Homo sapiens: one gene and its partners. The protein of the gene in region 3 purifies or fractionates together with the protein of the main gene of each other region. This does not show direct contact. Each region holds a gene or a part of one and is shown on either strand. Other genes may lie near its edges.

What was found.
Region 1: the proteins of OPA3 (region 3) and SCO1 purify together in Homo sapiens (affinity purification with mass spectrometry; one large-scale study listed by BioGRID and IntAct). This does not show direct contact.
Region 2: the proteins of OPA3 (region 3) and IARS2 purify together in Homo sapiens (co-immunoprecipitation; one large-scale study listed by IntAct). This does not show direct contact.

Annotation. Positions count from the first base shown.
Region 1 is NC_000017.11:10,690,958-10,694,610, reverse strand, and holds part of SCO1 (protein SCO1 homolog, mitochondrial), read left to right. Parts: intron 1-1,649; coding exon 1,650-1,847; intron 1,848-2,646; coding exon 2,647-2,739; intron 2,740-3,653. UniProt on the Homo sapiens protein: Copper metallochaperone essential for the maturation of cytochrome c oxidase subunit II (MT-CO2/COX2). Not required for the synthesis of MT-CO2/COX2 but plays a crucial role in stabilizing MT-CO2/COX2 during its subsequent maturation.
Region 2 is NC_000001.11:220,139,071-220,142,723, forward strand, and holds part of IARS2 (isoleucine--tRNA ligase, mitochondrial precursor), read left to right. Parts: coding exon 1-69; intron 70-1,112; coding exon 1,113-1,219; intron 1,220-2,732; coding exon 2,733-2,878; intron 2,879-3,653.
Region 3 is NC_000019.10:45,557,291-45,560,943, forward strand, and holds part of OPA3 (optic atrophy 3 protein), read right to left. Parts: intron 1-3,653. UniProt on the Homo sapiens protein: May play some role in mitochondrial processes.

The DNA of each region.
Region 1 (3,653 bases), on a different chromosome or scaffold from region 3:
GCTGACATGTTGCGTCATTAGCTCCAAACACTTTTTGGTGTATTTCCTACAAACAAGGACCTTTTCTAGCATAACCACAATACAACCATCAAAATTAGAAAATTGACGCTGATAATTTTGCTGCTGTTCAGTGTTCAGATAATCTTCAGGGTATTGTTTATTTGTTTGTTTTTTGAGACAGAGTTTCACTCCTGTTGCCCAGGCTGGATTACAGTTCAGTCTTCCAAGTTTTGCCACTTGATGTCTTTCAGAGCAAAAGGATCTGTTTCAGAACCATACCACCTTGTATCTAGTTGTTTACCTTAGCCTCCTTCATCTGTAACAGTTTCCCAGGCTTTAACTGACTCCCACAACCTTGACAGCTTTGACAGTTACAGGAGAGTTATTTTGTAGAATGCCCCTTAGCTTGGATTTGTCTGATGTTTCCTCATTCAGGTCATTCGGGTTGTGTACCTTTGGCAGGAATATCACAAAAGTGATGCTGTATTCTCCGTGCATCTGGTCAGATACCACATAGTACCAGTTGTCCCATTACTGATAATGTCCAGTTTGATCACTTGATTAATGTGTGTCTAACAGGTTTTCTACTGAAAAGTTACTCATGTAATTAATGGTGTTTCATGATTTGTATTGACATACGTATACTTACATATTCTGTTCCCCATCCCACTATCAATGTATTCATTTATTTATATCTGTGGACTTGTTTCCTATATATTCATTCAGTTTAAATCCATATTCTCTTTATTTTGATGCCCAAGTTGTCCCAGATTGATCAGCGGGAGCCCCCTTGGAGCAGGCTTCTGTGTCTTTGACACGTCTCCAATATTCTCTAAGTTCTGCTTTCCTTCTGCCACAACAAGAGGTTCCAGCCTCATTTTACACTTTCTTTGCCGCAACCCTGGTATCAGCCATTTCTCCAAAAAGCTGTTTCCTTTTAGTGAAGAATGATATTTAGAAGTCAGGTTCTGGGCTCATGGTTCTTGGAGTGTGTCTGCTCCCTGGTCCTCTCAGTGGACATGGTGAGAAAATAGATATATTTATGTACATCTATATTTATTTATATCTATATAGATAGAAGTTCACACTAGTACCTGCAGTGTATTTGCAGTACTGCAGGGTTCAGCCTAGCTCTCTTTCTCTCCATAGTTGACTCTTGTTTCCTATTGTAACTCTCTTCTCTTTAATATACTCATTTATTTCATCAATTTCCTGTGTGTAACTAAGGTCCCGTCACCACTATCACCTCCCCACCCAGCTGCCCTCCTTAGCACCCTCAGGATCAGACTCCCTATGCCAGGCCACCCACCGCACCCCACTTGTTTAGACATTCAGCTCTAGGCCACTGCAGCCCCTCCCTGCCCCCAGCATGGACACAGCTAATGGCTTAGGACTGAATTGTTCCTGAAAAAGAAGAAATATTTTTTCCTTTTTTACAACATACCATAGCATTTCATTTGATTTTGTTTTAATGTTTTGTGCTTATTTTTCTGAAAAGATTTTTTTAGCTTCTTGAAAACTGAAACTGTTTTTTCCACATTTTGTGCCCCCACCATGAGTAGCATAGTACGGGCCATATGTCAGGTATTTGAGTACCTCTGGTTAAATTGACTTTTTTTTTGGTGTCGATATGTTTTTGTCTCCTTAAGAGTTAGAGAAGGAACGGCAGCGACACATCGGCAAGCCTTTACTTGGGGGACCGTTTTCCCTCACAACTCATACTGGGGAGCGTAAAACTGACAAGGACTACTTGGGTCAGTGGTTATTGATTTATTTTGGCTTCACTCATTGCCCTGATGTCTGTCCAGAAGAACTAGAAAAGATGATTCAAGTCGTGGATGAAATAGGTAAGAAAGCCATCACTAACTAAACAAAGTATATGTTTACTTCATGTTACCAGGTTTTTCACACCCTTGTATTATTGTTAGGTGGGGTTTTGCAATTATGTGATTTGTAAGAACATAAAATCTCAGCATTTGGCTTGTTTGTTGCTTTGAATCTTGTGACCTTATTCTCCACTGAAAGAAGCTTGTTTTGATGTTAAATGTTAGATCACTTAAAAATGTCAGTGTGGTCTCCCTTAACTCTACTTTTGTGTCCCTTCCTTTGCATCACTGATGCTGCCATTGCCTCTTCCCCACTGATTGTGACAATTAAATTAGGAAATCTTTGCAATGGTCTGCAGTCTGTGGCATTTTACTAGTACTAGTAAGAAGGAAGGGTGCCTCCTCCATACAGTGAATTATTTCAGGATATTCAGCTCTTATTAACAATTTACCTTCTTGCCCTTGAGATATGGTGGGAGTGAAAAAAACTACAGATACTGGAGTGGATTCAGAGATAAGATAGCCACATGACATTATCCAGGGGAAGAACATTTATGTGCTGGTGCAGGCATTTGATAGGATATGTAACCTTGTATTATCCACCACAGATAATACTACTGTATATGGGTCTCCTCCTCCTAAAGGCCATCCCTTCTCCATCCCCTTCCCCGTCCTCTTCCTCTTCACCTGAATGTTAAGATGTCCATCTGCTTTCAAAACACCTAGCTGTCCAGCACGTCCTATACTCTCCTGTTATTGCTGGTTTTCTTTGTCTTTTCCCTTAGGGTGTGAATACGGACTAATTGGAACTCTCTTTCAGATAGCATTACAACTCTGCCAGATCTAACTCCACTTTTCATCAGCATTGACCCAGAGAGGGACACAAAAGAAGCCATCGCAAATTATGTGAAAGGTATTTTTTTAAATAATACTTTACATTTATTTAGCCTTAAAGTTTTTGGAATATCAGTTCATTTGAACCTTACAGTGCCTTGTGAAATAGGACAAATGGTATTATCACCAGTTTTATGGGTGAATAAAAAGGTGAAGCTAGGAATTGTTATGGATAGTTAGTGCGTAAGTAAGAAATGGGTTTCTCAATTCCTGATGCAGTGCTCTTTATATTTTGTCACAGAGAAAGGATTTGAACTTGGCCTTCATGTATCAACTAAGTTAATCGAGCCTTGAATTGAGAGTAAGGACACATTGCTTCTAACTCCAGCGCTGTAACTCATTCTCTGCATTGTAAAATCAGAACAAACATATATTCTGGAAGTATGTTCATTGGTAGATTAAAGATGAATAATTAAATACAAACATATTTTGAACTCAGTGCATGTTTTATAAATTTAAAACATTTACTGTAACAGGCCGGGCATGGTGGGCCTGTAATCCCAGCACTTTGGGAGACCAAAGTGGGTGGATCACCTGAGGTCAGGAGTTTGAGACCAGCCTGGCCAACATGGTGAAGCCCCGTCTCTACTAAAAATACAAAAATTAGCCAGGCACGGTGGTGCACACCTATAATCCCAGATATTCGGGAGGCTGAGGCAGGAGAATTCGCGTGAACCTGGCAGGCGGAGGTAGCAGTGAGCTGACATCACGCCACTGATCTTCAGCCTGGGCAACAGAGCTAGACTCTGTCTTAAAGATAAATAAAACATTTACTATGACAAAGTAACTGTTGTTTAATTGACACATAACAGTTGTACATATTTATGGGGTACAGAGTCCCTATCCTCCCCAACCCTTTCCAGCCTCTAGTATCCACAATTCTTCTCTCTACTTCTGTGAGATCAACTTTTTTAGTTTCCACGTATGAATATG
Region 2 (3,653 bases), on a different chromosome or scaffold from region 3:
ATCCCTGTAAACGATATGTATGTCATAGACCAGTACATGCTACACTTACTGCAGGATTTGGCAAACAAGGTAAATGTAAATTAATAAACTTTTGGAAACTAGAAATATCAGCACTATTGTAGGTTAAAATTTTAGTTTTATCTGAGTGGAACAGACCTTGCTGGAAATAGTAACTATAGCACTCTTGAAGAGAAATATGTCCAGACTTCCCCTCGGACCAGATTTTTCTCTCATGATTAGCTCTATTTTTCCAACAAGAAGGAATAAAGTGGAGTTATACTTTATCTGCACATGTGCTCCTCATAATAAAGTACAGAAATAACCAAAATGGACTATCCTATTTGTCTCATAAGATACTTACTCATTTTCATATAGACTTAAATAATTTCTGTTTTCTGGCTGGGTGTGGAAACTCACACCTATAAATCCTACTACTTTGGGAGGCCGAGGTGGGAGGATTGCTTGAGGCCAGGTGTTCAAGACCAGCCTGGGCAACAGAGCAGGAACCTATCTCTAGAAAAATTTTAAAAATTAGCCAGGCGTGTTAGCCAGTGCATGTAGTCCCAGCTCCTTGGGAGGCTGAGGCAGGAGAATCGCTTGAGCCCATGGTTTTGAGGCTGCAGTGAGCTGTGATTGTGCCACTGCACTCCAGCCTGGTTGACAGAGTGAGACCCTGTCTTAAAAAAAAAAAATTGTGTTTTCTCATAATTGGAAATGTGTTTGCATTAGTGTACCCTTAAGTCAGAGGTGTACATACCAATTTTGCCCAAATCAAAAATAAATGAGGCATAAATGAAGGAACACTAATGAATTGTTGGTGACGTCCACTGTTTGCTGTTGTTAAAATGGTGTGATTTTGTTATTTACAATCTCATTCTTTCCTTAATTAATGTCCTTTCGTAGTTCTCAGAGTAAAATAGTATTTTCTGAGTGTAGTCAAATGTGTTATCCAGAAATGACATTTGGAAGATTCCCAGGAGTTCTTGCATATTGCCTGTTTTGTATTTGTCTCATTGAAACATATTTTTGAAAGGAGCATATTTTGCTTGTGATGACTTACATTTTCATTTGCCTGTCTCAGCTTCCAAATTTATTTTGGCTTTGTTCCCTAGATTACCGAATTATACAAACAATATGATTTTGGAAAAGTTGTTCGGCTGTTACGGACGTTTTATACCAGAGAGCTCTCTAACTTTTATTTCAGTATAATCAAAGATAGGTATGTATGACTAAATATTAAAATGCTTAACAATGGCCAGGTGTGGTGACTCACGCCTGTAATCCCAGCACTTTGGGAGGCCGAGGCGGGTGGATGACATGAGGCCAGGAGTTCGAGACCAGTATGGCAAAATACAAAAATTAGCCGGGCATGGTGGCACATGCCTGTAATCCGAGTCACTCAGGAGACTGAGGCACGAGAATCGCTTGAACTTGGGAGGCGGAGGTTGCAATGAGCAGAGATTGTGCTGCTGCACTCCAGCCTGGGTGACAGAGCAAGATCTCGTCTCAAAAAATAACAACAACAAAACCTCAACAAGTATTTTTTGAGTGTCTACTTGTGTTTGGCAACCGTCAGGGATACAGTGATGAGCAAGATGGGCAGTGTTGTGCAGTTATTAAGATTGGGTTCCGGGCCAGGCGTGGTGCCTCACGCCTGTAATCCCAGCACTTTGGGAGGCCGAGGCGGGCGGATCACGAGGTCAGGAGATCGAGACCATCCTGGCTAACACAGTGAAACCCCGTCTCTACTAAAAATACAAAAAATTAGCTGGGCGTGGTGGCGGGTGCCTGTAGTTCCAGCTACTTGGGAGGCTGAGGCAGGAGAATGGCGTGAACCCGGGAGGCAGAGCTTGCAGTGAGCCGAGATCGTGACACTGCACTTCAGCCTGGGCGACAGAGCAAGACTCCGTCTCAAAAAAAAAAAAAAAAAAAGATTGGGTTCCGGAGTCAAGTCTGAGTATAAAGGTTTGACCTCCCGCTTACTAGCTTTCTGATTTGGGGCAACTTATTCTGTAATCTGTTTCTTCATCTGTAAAATGGGTATAATAATACTTACCTCGTGATTGAGAAGGAAAAGCAATAATGTGCTTAAAGCTGTGCTTGATAAAGTGTTCAAAAAATCATCACTACTAATATCAGACGATGAACATAATGCTTGTTCTCAGGAGTTCTCAAATCCTGAGGGGAAGAGAGAGATATATATGTGCAATTATATGGTAACAGTGTATAATATTAGCAGTATCCTTGTAGAAGAGGCCTTGATGCCAAGTCTTCATCTGTTGCTCCAGTGTGCAGGTGACGGTCCTACCTTCATGGTAATGAGTCCAGTCTGAGGCGTTATCCTCAGCCTGTCAGCACCCCAAGGACCTTGCACATAGGGATTATAACTCCTACTCCTTCCCTTAAAACACTAATAACATTGGAGTGGGTGGGAGCCACATGTTAAATACCATCAACTAACTTATTCATAGTCCTTTAATACAGTAGTCTAGACTCTAGTTGTCATCCACCTGAGAAACAGAATGAGATAGCGTAGCCATGAGTGCTTTCAAGGAGGTGGGTACACCTGGACGGAGTAAAATTGTAGGAGAGTGTATTGTATTCTTTAAGTAGAAGATGATTAGAGCCATAGGATTAGCCACTAGGAATAAACTCAACCTGAGGCAGGTCCCATCTAGGTGACCATAATGTATAAAGTATTGTCAACTGCTGAATAAGTTGTTCTTGTTCAGGCTCTATTGTGAAAAGGAAAATGACCCCAAACGACGCTCTTGTCAGACTGCATTAGTTGAAATTTTGGATGTAATAGTTCGTTCTTTTGCTCCCATTCTTCCTCACCTGGCTGAAGAGGTGTTCCAGCACATACCTTATATTAAAGGTAAGGAATACTTCATTTATTCTCTTAATGAGAAATATCCCTGATCAAGGTGCAACTTCTACTTCTATCTGCTTCATAAAAGGGGCACTTATCCATTTACAGTGACTGCTGTGTGACACAGTGTGTCTTGGTCATGTATTTGTTTCTGCACCTATTTGTAGAGGAGTAGGGTAAATTTCAGAATTCTGTGCTTTCTGAAATGTATTAGCAGCTTGACAGTGTCGAGAAATCACCTTTTTTCTTAAATACCTTTATAACTGTTCTGAAATGGCTGGCATGGTGGCTCACACCTGTAATCCCAGCACTTTGGGAGGCCGAGGTGGGCAGATCACTTGAGGTCAGGAGTTCAAAATTAGCCAGGCCAACATGGCGAAACCCCATCTCTACTAAAAATATAAAAATTAGTGGGGCATGGTGGTGGCGGGTGCCTGTAGTCCCAGCTACTTGGGAGGCTAAGGCAGGAGAATTGCTTGAACTCGGGAGGTGGAAGTTGCAGTGAGCCAAGATCATGCCACTGTACTTCAGCCTGGGTGACAGAGCAAGACTGTCAAAAAAAATGTTCTGAAATATATTTTAGGTTGTATTAAAACAAAATATAGTGCTTTTAGTGAGTTTTATGTTAGTTGTTTTCTTCTGATTGTATTAAGTTTATAAAAATTAGAAACTATAGAAGTGTAGGAAGAGGGGGAAGTCACTTATAATGTTACTCCTGATAGCTGTTAATATTGGGATATTTCTATTTATTTTTTTCTAAGCATCCTTTTTTTCTTTGAGA
Region 3 (3,653 bases):
TGGGCTTTCAGGGCTTTCAGAGCAGGGGCCGACGGCATTCTCCCTCGGGCCAGCGGTCAGATGTGGGGTTCAGGAAACAAGGCCCAGGTGGGGATGAATCACAGGGCTGTGATTCTAGAAGGGACAGCTGTGAGGGGCCGGGACAGGCTAAGCTGGAGGACTCACCAGACTTGCGGGGGTCAACACGCTCCAGATGTCTCCTAGACCTCTCACACTCAGCACATCCAAACCTGAACCCAGCACCTGGCCCCACACCTGTCCCCTGGCTAGAGACGGGGGCCTCAGCCCAGCTGTTCCCCTTCTCCCACAGCCTCTCAGCTGCGTGTCGGGTCCATTCTGCATCTTGAACATCTCTCCCAGTGGATTCCCTTCTGCTGTCCTGGTCCAGGATCCATCCCAGCTCTGACCAACGTTCTCCTCCCTGACCTCCTGAATAGGAGGAATACAGCCTGTCTATCCCCTTCTGAGTGCCTATCACAACCAGGAATAGTGGCTATCCAGTTACCTGTCTGCAATCAGTCTCCCCACTGTCCTGTAAGCCTCACAAGGGTGGGGCCCAGGGCTGTCACAGTCACTGCTGTGTCCCCAGCACTGCCCAGTGCCAGGCCAGGCACACGCATGATGCTCATTAGATCTAAGCTTAACACATAAGTGAGTCCCGCCTCCAGCCTCCTTCCCACCTGCCGGCCCCAGCCTCACCCCTCTGCAATTGTCCCCCACGCAGCAATCAGAAGGAATTGGTGAGAAGAAAAGAACAAACTGGCTGGGCGCGGTAGCTCAGGCCTTTAATCCCAGCGCTTTGGGAGGCTGAGACAGGCAGATCATGAGGTAAGGAGTTCAAGACCAGCCTGGCCAACATGGTGAAACCCATCTCCAGTAAAAATACAAAAAATTAGCGGGGCGTGGTGGGAGGCCCCTGTAATCCCACCTACTCGGGAGGCTGAGACAGGAGAATCGCTTGAACCCAGGAGGTGGAGGTTGCCGTGAGCCAAGACCACGCCACTGCACTCCAGCCTGGGCAACAAGAGCAAGACTGTCTCAAAAAAAGAAAAGAAAAGAACAAACCTACCATTCCCCGTCGCCCCACCCCCAACTCCTGCCGCAAATAAAAGTAACACATGGCAAGAAAACAAAGTACTCAAACTATAAAATGTAAAGCCAAAGTCCCCTCCTCAGAGGAACCCTCAACTACTGCGGTCGCCAGCCTGTTTTCCCCTAGCGCCATCTCCTGGACAGCCCATAGTAAGCATACCTCACTCATTTCTGAGCTCTTCAACTGGAGGTTTGTTCAGATCTACGCCATCGTTACCTACTCATAATCCAGCCCCACTATGAAAGGTGAGCACTCTGCCCCCATGCGGCCTGCCCTTTCTCCGCTCCCCCATTTCTACAGGGGATTTGTATGCAGTTTTTATTATTCTATGTTCTGCTGTTTTTTTTTTTTATTTTTTTTAGACGGAGTCTCGCTTTGTCCCCAAGGCTGGAGTGCAGTGGCATGATCTCCGCTCTGCAATGCAGTGGCCATGGAAACACTCTCCAGTGTGGTGTGACTAAGGCAGAGAGGAGACCCTCTGAGTGCTGCTTCATGAGACTTTGGTGCTTTTTTTTTTGATACAGAGTCTTGCTCTTGTTGCCCAGGCTGGAGTGCAGTGGCTTGATCTTGGCTCACTGCAACCTCTGCCTCCCGGGTTCGAGTGATTCTCCTGCCTGAGCCTCCCAAGTAGCTGGGATTACAGGCGCCCACCACCATGTCCGACTAATTTTTGTATTTTTAGTAGAGACGGGATTTCACCATGTTGGCCAGGCTGGTCTCAAACTCCTGACCTCAAGTGATCCATTCACCTTGGCCTCCCAAAGTACTGGGACTACAGGTGTGAGCCACCGTGTCTGGCCTAACTCCAACTTCATGAGAGATCTTAACCTATAATTTTCCTTTTCTGTAATGACTTTATCAGGCTTTGATATCAGTATTCTATTGGACTCATAAAATGAGTAAGTCAGTATTCCTACTTTCTCTATTACTTAAAAGAATATGGACAATGGTCTTTCTTTCTTTCTTTTCTTTTCTTTCTTTCTCTTCTCTCTCTTCTTTCCCTCTTTTTCTTTCTTTTTTTTTTTTTTTTTTTTTTGAGATGGAGTCTCGCCATGCTGTCCCAGGTGGACTGTAGTGGCACAATCTCGGCTCACTGCAACCTCCGCTTCCCGGGTTCAAGTGATTCTCTCACCTCAGCCTCCCATGTAGCTGGGACTACAGGCACATACCACCACACCTGGCTAATTTTTGTATATTTTGGTAGAGACAGGGTTTCACCATGTTGACCAGGCTGGTCTCGAACTCCTGACCTCACGTGATCCACCCGCCTCAGCCTCCCAAAGTGCTGGGATTACAGGTGTGAGCCACCGCACCTGGCCCCCTCCATTTCTCTCTTCCTGTCTTTTCCCAATTCTTCTTTTAGATCTCAGCTGGACTGTCCCTTCCTCCAGGAAGCCCTCCCTGAACCATAGGCTGGGTCAGACACATTCTCAAGGTTCTCAAAGCTCCCTGGGCTTAACACGAGGCCGGCCTTAATAAATGGCAGCAAGACCTTTGGAGTCGCACAGACCTGGACTCAAATCCTGGTTCTGTCACTTTCTGGATTCGCAAGCTGAGCCTTGGTGTTTCCTTATCAAAACTGGGGGTCAAAATACTCAACTGACAGGATTGGGAGAATGGCAATGACAGAGTAAGGGAGAAAATGCTCAGTTTGTAAATGTTAACCTAATATCCTCTTCCTGACTTCTGTCAGGAATTTTATTCCTGGAAGTACATCCTACCCACTGGTGTGAATCTACTCTTGGGTTACATAGAATCGTTTTCCGTCTCCTCCCTGAACTCTCTCCCTCCAGACTCACTCCCTTTCATCTGTCTTCCATACCGGAGAATCCCAACTCAGATGTCCCCTCCTCCAGGAAGCCTTCCCTGACCTCCAGACCCCTGGGATCCTCTATCTGAGCTCTGACTGCTCTGGGTCCTCACTGCATGGTGACAAGTCTGTCTCTCCAACTGGACTGTGAGGCCGATGCAGGCAGGACCTGAGGCTAACTCGGTCACTGCACTGTCCCCAGCCCCAGATAGGCACAGAGCAGGCACTTAATGAAAAAGCTGATCTGTGGAGGTGCCCAGGAGGTGACCATGGACAATGGGTATGGCTCCTGTCTCTGGCTCCCCCATCTCCCTTCTCTCTCTCCTGATGCTTTTGGTGTTATCTGTCCCCTCGAGAATGTGGCACTGTGCATTGCCCCTCCTCCTGGATTTCCTGGATTGGCTCCAGGCCCCCTCTACACATCTGTCTCTGATATAGACCCTTTCCTCGGCCTCAGTGGCTGTCATTTCTCAGGGCACCATTTCCTAAGCCCTTTTCTCACTCGACTGTCACATCTACTTCCAGGGGCCACTCAGAACTTCAGGACCCAAACTCCTATGCTCAGATCTCTCTCAGCCCCGGAGCTCCAGGCCACAGGCACTTCAGACACTCTAGGTCACAACACAGTGGCTGACCAAGCCCAGAGAGATTTCCCCGGGAAAGGAGGGATATCTTAACCCACTGAGGCAAGTAAAGTGACGTACTTGGCCACAGTTAACTATTGTTCAAGATTTTTCTGAGCATGAAACT